Regions from separate parts of the Homo sapiens genome. Here regions 1 and 2 are each linked to region 3. Evidence: fine-mapped QTL for protein levels in blood plasma. A gene starts in region 3. Each other region holds a variant in brackets. All regions are shown on one strand. Distances are from middle to middle.

What was found. PIP is the posterior inclusion probability: the model's chance that the variant is causal. Protein levels are from antibody-based Olink assays in UK Biobank. Linkage for the fine-mapping came from a reference panel and not from the study's own genotypes, which makes the PIPs less certain.
Region 1: its variant is fine-mapped to the plasma level of the IGSF9 protein (UK Biobank, PIP above 0.99).
Region 2: its variant is fine-mapped to the plasma level of the IGSF9 protein (UK Biobank, PIP above 0.99). The variant lies in the coding sequence of IGSF9. If it changes the protein, the assay may bind it differently, which can mimic a change of level.

The regions. Positions count from the first base shown.
Region 1 is chr1:159,924,401-159,927,133 of GRCh38, forward strand. TAGLN2 (transgelin 2) reads right to left here and starts at 1,107. Exons shown (of 5, transcript NM_003564.3): 1 at 1,050-1,107. IGSF9 (immunoglobulin superfamily member 9) reads right to left here. Exons shown (of 21, transcript NM_001135050.2): 21 at 2,641-2,733. LOC124904437 (a long non-coding RNA gene) reads left to right here. Exons shown (of 2, transcript XR_007066683.1): 2 at 79-2,540. RefSeq lists enhancers at 1-736, 209-785 and a silencer at 68-477. The variant A/G (reference allele first, on the strand shown) is at 2,104.
Region 2 is chr1:159,931,083-159,933,831 of GRCh38, forward strand. IGSF9 (immunoglobulin superfamily member 9) reads right to left here. Exons shown (of 21, transcript NM_001135050.2): 10 at 1,430-1,570; 11 at 730-846; 12 at 371-521; 13 at 56-179. Among named protein-coding and RNA genes, the nearest start is that of TAGLN2, 7.0 kb to the left of the region's middle. The variant G/A (reference allele first, on the strand shown) is at 1,566.
Region 3 is chr1:159,944,107-159,946,855 of GRCh38, forward strand. It overlaps IGSF9 (immunoglobulin superfamily member 9), which reads right to left and starts at 1,507. Exons shown (of 21, transcript NM_001135050.2): 1 at 1,467-1,507. LOC124904438 (a long non-coding RNA gene) reads left to right here. Exons shown (of 3, transcript XR_007066684.1): 2 at 2,046-2,346. RefSeq lists a silencer at 1,493-1,787 and an enhancer at 1,630-2,130.

The sequences.
Region 1 (2,733 bases), 20 kb before region 3:
CCCGTCCCAGCCGCAGGTCTTCTACATCGAATCCCACACTCCATCCCCACTCTCACCCCGTTTCTCTCTGCCCCACAGATACCAACTGCTCACAGATCTCCCAGGACACCGGCTTCAGGTAGCCCCAGGAGGCACAGGGCGCGGGGGGAGGCGGCAGTCCACCTCCGGTCCTGCAGGTCCGGCCTCCCAGCCGCCGCCCCCCACCCCCACGACCACACCCTGGGCCGTTACAACAGATGAGTCACCCACCGCCCTCCCGCCGCTGGGGTGACGCAGTGGTCTGGGCAGCCCGCCCGTCCGCCCGCGGCCACCACCGGCTTTCCCAGCAGCAGGGGGCACCCGGTGGGGGCAGCGGCGCTCGGGCAGGGTAAAAGCAGCCACCACCACCCCCACAACCTCACACAGGGCACCCCGGGGCGCAGTCAGGGCTGCAGCACCCAGACCCCCGAGGTCAGGGGACCGTCATAGAGATGACTGGAGCTTCACAGAAGGTCACCGTGCGACCCATGCAGAGCCCCCTAGCCCCAGCCCGTGACCTCAAGTCCCCAGAATAGCAAGCTAGCAGGAACAGGAATGAAAAGGGCGGCCTCGGGGACTCAGAGGGCACGCAGTGCTCACACGTGCTCCTGGAACCAGGAAGTGAAGGGTCGCGCGGGAAAGCCCAGGAGCACGAGCTGGCCCAGGGCCGGCGCCACGACCCGGGGTCACTCGGGGCCAGCCAGCTAAAGTCCGACGCCCTTTTTTCCCCTCGCCCCAGTGAGGACTCAGCGATGGAGCCCGCGGGTGGGGCTCAGTCCCTGAGTCCCTGCTCCAGACGGACGCCCTGTCTATGCATGGGCTAACCTCGCCTGACCTCATCGTCCAACAATGTCGGGTCAGGGCTTGGGGACAGGACCTGACAGCACGGGGCGGGGTAAAGTAGTCACCGGACCCTTGCCTGGTACCAGCCCTTGATCCCCGAGCTCGCTGGAGCAAGTTCAAAGCGCTGGCTTCTTGCTTTCTACACAGCACGCACATGTCCCCGACCCCCGTACCCCCGACCTGCTCACCGTTCAAGCGGGCTGGAGAGCGGCGCACTGACTCAAGGCAAGGGCTGCAGCTGCAAGTGGTGCGCCCTGCCCAGCCGGGGATTTTCAGGAGGGTCCCGCCTCAGACGGGGCGGACCCGGGGCGGGGCAAGGGCCAAGAAGGTTTAAAGGCGCCGCAGCGCAGAAGGAGGGAGGACTGCTTGAGACAGAGGGACAGTAGACCAGAGCAAGGGTTAAAGGTTCGGGGAGTCTGAATCTACAAAGGCGGCTGCAGTGGTCTCCACCCGTGAGTACCTCAGCCTCCACCGAGAGCCCGTAGACTTGTGCCCCAGTAGGAAACTTTCTGCCTAGAAAGTTAGCTAAACACTGTGGGCGTGTTTATGTAGGAAGAAGCCTCCTAGTTTAGAGGCTGGCAAGGTAAAAGGAGGCACAGGAAGGCCTTCCCCCGACCCCAACTGACTAGTGTGTGACAGGACTGGGACTTGCAGGCCGGGACAGCACCCCCACGTGATCTTGCTCACCTCTTACTTCAAGCCTGGGCAGGGACTAACAGTGAGGTCACTCTGCCCAGGGCCCTAGGGGTGTTTTCGGTGTTGGGACCCAGGGCTCAGACCTGTCTTCTCCCTGCCTTTCATCTCCTTTTCTATGACCTGGTATCTCTTCCTAAATCCTGGAGGGATCAGAGGGGGAGACCTCAGCGCGAGGAGGCTGGCTGGGGTTCTTTTGTCTCTGAGGGTGGAGGACAGCACAGTTCAGGGGTGGAGAAAGAGCCCCCCATCCTTTCAGGCTTCAGTTGAATAGAGTCCCCCGGGGTGGAGTTCTGCACACATGATAGAGTCCTCCCTTGAACCTGAGATTCCAGGATGTCAATATCCAGTCCTGTCCAACCTTTCTATTATTCTCTGTTCCCTCCCCGAGTCCTACACAGCCCTATATTCCAGTCCCACTGATTGTCAAGCATTCTCACTCTTCTGTGCCTTTACAAAGGCTATTCCTCTGCCTAGGACAGTTTCCCTTCCTTGACTGGCTCCCCACCTGCTCTACCCTTTACCTGCTGTGTGACTGTTGTGCATTCT[A/G]TGCTTGAGTTCCCTGGTCTATAGAACAGAGCTAATAGTACTACCTAATTCATAGAATTGTAGAGAACTAAACAGTCCACCTATAGGGCTTAGAGCAGTGCCTGGCACATAGTGAATACTATTATTACCACCATCTATCTGTGAGGGTCCTGAGGACTCCCCCCCAATATGTGGCATTTGTCCCAGCACACGATATTAGCGTTCACTAAAGGTGGCCTTGAATGCAACATCTTCCTTTGTGCTACAATAACCAACACATAGCTTTATCACGGAACTTATCATACGGTAACTATTTCTTTGTCCGCCTCACTGACTAGAAAGAACTCCTCAAGGGCAAAGGCGTGCTTCCAGAGCTTTGTATTTTCTCAGTATCTACTTCAGTGGCTGGCCTTTAGTAGCTGGCCTCCGTAAGCACTCAATAAATGTTCTTGAATGAATGCTGAATGCACCTCCATTTATTCAAGAAGATTCTCCTCTTCTTTAAGGGTCCAGGGATTTTCCTGGCACTCTCTCAAAGACAGATAACACACAGAAACATCTTTCAAACTTTGTTTATTCACCTGTAAAAAACTTCACACACACACACACACACACAGAGAGAGAGAGAGAGAGAGAGAGAGAGAGAGAGGC
Region 2 (2,749 bases), 13 kb before region 3:
GGAGAGGAAAGGAGGCAAGATTGGCACAGAGAAATGGCAGGAGCAGGTCACTCACAGTGGGGTGTACCAGACACTGAATCTCTGCAGATAACCACCATCAAAGCCAGGCTCCCAGGAGACATTGGCACCCTTGGGCAAAGCCACCACGGACACATTGGTGACAACATGAGGGCTAGTGCCTAGGCAGGGGGGAATGGAGGGATGGTGGTCAGGGCCTGAGGGAGTGTACAGAGTAGCAGGGGCCCCAGGGCCACTGACCTTCACCCATCATCATCCCAGGGGTCCCACACCCATGATCCTCTTTCTGGGCCTCCAAAAACGATTCCCAAGTAGTTTCTCCCAGCCCCTGGCCCTCTCTCCAGCCACTAACCCAGCACGTAGACGTTCGTGGAGGTGGCCACTCGGGCCACAGCATTGCTGGCACTGCATTCCCAGTGCCCGTGGGCCTCCTTGGTCAATGGTCGCAGGATGAGGCTGCTGTTGCTGTCCACCTGGGCCTGGCCTTGCAGCCCCCGGCCCACCTACAGAACCACTGGTGAGCCCTGAGGACACACGCAGCCACCCCTCACCAAAGGCGCCCCTCATCTCTCCAGGCAGCTCCAGTTCCTCCCCACCCTGCCTCTGACAGCCTTCTCCTTCCCACACCCTCCCTCCCACAAAATGGCTGGGGCACGAGAGGCAGGGGTGTAGTGGGCGTGGGTACAGGCAGAGCGGGCTCAGGAGCCTTACCTTGGTCCAAGAGACAACAGGAGGAGGGTCCCCTTGGGCGGAGCAGGGGATGAGCAGCTCCCGCCCTACTTCTTGGAAATATTCTTCCTTGGGCCGCTCTATAAAAGCTGGGGGAGCCTGCAAGCCAGATCTGGCATTGGGAGGGGCCCTCTCTTACATCTAAGGCTGGCTACTCCCTCTCTCTGTGCTCCCTGTCATGCCATGTCTCACCTCACTCTCCCTCACTCCCCCTAGCTAAACACTCACCAAGCCTGTCTCTACCTCATTCTCTCTCCATCTCTCAATTCCTCTCTGGCTCTGTTTCTGTTCCCCAGTGGGTAGGGGCTGGAGGAAAATGGTGGTGTAGTAAGGGCTGGCAGGCTTAGGCAGGACTCTCAGAGATGTACAAACCTCTGCAGAACATTCTTCCTCCCAGAGCCCCAGAGAGGGAGGCAGCACGGTCAAGGTTAGTGAGAGTTGGGGCAAACAGGATATCTTACTTCTGGATGTGTGTGACTGATGTCCCACCTCCCGAGCACCACCTCTGCAGAAACCTCTGGGATGGCATCAGGCAGCTGCTGCCGTGGCCACCATGGGAAACAAACTTGGAAACCCCTCCCCATGTGTCTGCCCCACCCCACCCCCATCAGCCTGGCCTTAGCACCATCTCCAGCCATCTGACCCACTGTCACCACAGGCCCCCGCCCACCCCCGGCCTAACCTTGAGCAGCACGCGGGTCACAGGAGAGGGCCCGGCGGTACCAAGACTGTTGTAGGGGGTGCAGGAGTATTCTCCCAGGGCATCCTCGTTCCCCAGGGCGATGATCAGTGAGCCTTCTGTGCCCTGGGACCAGCCA[G/A]GGAACTGGAAGGAAGAGAAGATGACAGCTAGAGAGAGGAGCTCAGCAGAGACAAGCCCGGGATGGCAGTACAAGAGAGGGGGCAGGATGAGAAACCCACAGCTGTGCAGAAGACTCCAGCAGCTCCATGTCTAGGCCTGACCCCTCTCTGATTTCCAGTGCTTCCTTTCCTTCCTGCAGAGGGACCCCTCCCAATAGTGTGAGGCTGTGACTGCACAACTCCAGGGGGTGCCACTCACAGAAAATACACTGTGAATGGCCACCCCTGTAGTTGGGCCGCGTGGGGCTTCCTGCCTGCTGGGACTTCACCTGGCTCTCTTCCCAGCACTCCACAACTAAGTTCAGAGTCTTCCACCCAAAACCAGCTCCTATTTCTCTATTAAAGGGCCCGCCATCCTTCTTGCTGAAGTCTGCCTCCTCACGTTCCCTCACTCCCCCTGGTGAAATACTCACTAAGCCAGTCATCCTGGGAAGTCCCTTTTGTCAGAGCATGAGCCCATTCATCTTCATGTCCTCTGTAAATCAGACTCCATAACTCTCACCTGGGCCATTTCAGCAGCTTCAGAACCCCTCTTCCTATGTCCAGTATCTCCCGCTACATTCCACTGGGCAAGCTCAACCCCTGATCACAGCTCTGATCCTATCACACCAATGCTCAACAAATTCCAGTGGCTCCAACTGCCTGTAGACTTTTTTCTTAAATATTCAACAAAGATATACTGAGTACTATTGTTGTAGAAGCCCCAGGTACACTATGATGAAAAGATGCAATACTAGGCCTCAAAAATTTATAGTCTCTGCAGACAAAAGATCCCAATTGCCTTGGAATGAGGCAATAGTAACTTGGCATCCAGTTCTTCCTTTTGATGCTAACCTGTCTTTCCAGCTTTCTCTGCACCATTCATGTCCCTGCAGGCACTCCGGCTCCCACCCAATTGGACGATCCATGATTCCATAAACGTACTATACTACTTCCTGCCTCTTGACCCTGGTTTCTGCAAGGGAATGACTGTGTCCTCTTTGAGGCCCATCACCAAAGTCCCAGAATCTGTTGCTGGTCTATCCTCAACCACCCTAAGAGGAAGGCACGAGCTCCATCCCTGGCCTTCCAGACAGTGTTGCTGTCCTCTGCCCAGATGGTGCCCACTTTAAGGATGGATGCCTCCTTGCCCCTGCCCTCAACC
Region 3 (2,749 bases):
GACAAATAAGGGCCCTGAGGATATCTGCTCAGGGGCAGAGAGCCAGTCAAGGGCAAATCCAGGGCGCTTAAGCCTCAGAAAGTGGTCCCCAGGACACCCCGATACAATCCCTTGTCCCATTTCCCCAGCCTCTATGAAAAACTCTGGAAGCTGAGGACCCGAGGCCTTTCTCCATTCAGTCTCCCTACACTGCTTTGGCAGTGAGTGAGTCAGGCACTTGGGAGAGGAGGAGCTGCCTCCCCCACCTGCCAGTATGGGGGATCCAGGCAGCATCCTCCAGGTCTGGACAGGTCCCGGGGCTGGCAGCTGGCGCCACTTCCTCACGATACTGCCAAGCAGCCCTCCCCCTGCCAGGCACCACCACCCAAGGACCTCACCCAAATCCCTCCCACTCACTCCCCTCCAATATCTTCGGGGTGCCAGGGTTTGTCAAGCTCTTTCTTCCCCAACCCCAGAGGCATGGTCCAAAAAAAAGCCTGTGAGTCCCTGAAGTGTACAAAATTAACCCTGGGGCATGGAGGGTAGGAGCTTCTGACAGCCCCACAGATCCTAGGGCAGTCTCAGAGAGCCAGAGGGTCCATGCCAGGGCCTGGCACTGCCAAGTGGACTCTGCTCTGAGTCCTCCAACCCACTCTTGGCCGCAAAGTTCAGGACAGACTATAAAACATCCTCCACAGAGTCTGATCCTTGCCTCTACTTAATGATCCTGTATGTCTAACTTCTGGCAATTCACTAGCAACCAAGCCCCCTGTTTCCCACTGCCTCCAGGCAGCTCTCCCACACTTCCCTGAAAAACCTTTTTCCAAGTATATAGGAACCCCCTAGTTCTCTCCTGGTTGTTTTCCGAGACTCTGAGTAACTAGGCATCCCTAGAATTCCTCCCAGTCTCTTAATATCTTTCCAACTCCCCCGGCCTCCACTATTTCCTCACCCTTCTAGTCTCCCCACACACCACTCCCTCGTCCTCCCATTACTCCCTTCCCAGTTATCGCTACTACGCACAATCCCCCCACAATTCCAGCTTCTCGCACCTGATCTCCAATTGCAGCAGGTCTCCTGCACTATAAAGAACTCCCTTCTGGTCTCCCCACCCCCCAGCCACTTCTCCCCATCCTCTCCTCCCGATAATTCCCCTCCCTGGGATTCTCCTGCATCAGCCCACAATACAATTCTGATACCCCACCCCCAACAATTCCTTTCTCCCTCGCATTCTCTGGTCCCCTGGAACTCCTCCTTTCTCTTAGAACCCACCAAGAACTCCCCCACATTGCCTCCAGAACTCCTGCAGTTCTCCGGGAACTCCCACCCACCCGCCAAGAATTCCACTTCACTCCCCAGAACTCCCCTAGTTCTACTCCTGCAACGAATTCCACTTCTCTCTAGAACTCCCCGCTTTCTCCTGTCCCCCATAACTCCGCACTACCAGCACCACCACTTCTATACCTCCAGTACGCCCCCTCCCTCACCTGCTCCGCACCGCTCGGCTCCACTCTCGCCGCTACACAATAGGGGGCGGACCCGCCTCCCCGCCTCGGATGCCCCGAGCGCCTCCCGTCGCCCTGGAGACCGCCAATCCCCCTCCCGCGGCGGCCAATTGGAGCCGCCAGAGGCACGGCGAGGCGGGCGGGACCCCTGAGCGGCCTGGGAGTTGTAGTTTCAGGAGGGAAGAGCTCGGCTGCACGTGGGCTCAGGTCGCCCCCTCGTGGACCTCTGCACAGCCAAGCGTGGAAAGGCCGGTGGGCCGCTTCCCGCCGCCAGCAAGAGGGGCAGCAGGGTCCGGCTCGCGCTCCAGGGCTGCGGGAGCTGGCCCCTTGCCAGGCTACTGGTACGCCGTCCTTCTTTCGGAACCTACGGGCGACCCTCTCCGCTCCCCGAACGGGCGCGCCACAGAGGCGGCAGCGAGGGTTGAAATCTGAGCCTGGGGGTAGGAGAACCAGGCGGGGAGCATGACTCCCCGCCCTCCTCCCAGGGGATCCACCCAGGTCCCGGGCTCATCCGATCTCCTCCCCCATCCCCATTTCTACCTCCACCCATTGCTTCTCTAGCAGGACTGGAAATACCTGTCTGCATTGGCGAGCTCCCAAATCTTGCCCAGGCGCCTCCCACCGTGTGCAGCTGAGGAAGGCTGTGCTCTGAGCGTGGGGTTGCCAAGTCAGCTCCCAAGGCAGCTCTGGCACCAACGACCCAGAGAAACAGGCCCAGAGGGGAGAAACGACAGATATCCTGACACGGGAGATTGAAAGGGAGGAATGAAATACAAGATCACTTACTGGACCCATGCAGGGTGCCAGACCCTGGACTAGATGCTTTATAACTCTTGTGTAACCTTCACAGAAACCCTGCGAAGTAAGTAGAGCTCCCTTTGACTAATGAGAAAACTGAGGCTCAGGGAGATGAAGTAACTTGGCCCAAGCTTTCCCAACTAGGTTATGGCAGAGCTGGATTGAGACCCAACCCAAACTTCATCAAACCTACTCCCTTGGAGGCTTCGCCCTCAGACACAAAGATATCTTGCATATCTTGCCCCTCAGAGATTCCACCTCCTCAGCCTGGTGATGCTGTAGGGATGCTGGGTCGGCTTAAGCAACATTGCCTGTCCAGGTCCTTCCCATTCAGTTGGCTCCCTTGGAAGCCTTCCATGAAAGCAACGTGCTGATCTCATCCCAATCCGAAGTACTAAGACTCAAACTGAGTGCACCAGGCATCAGACTCACAGAATCACTGCTGCAGCATCATGAGAGAACCTCCA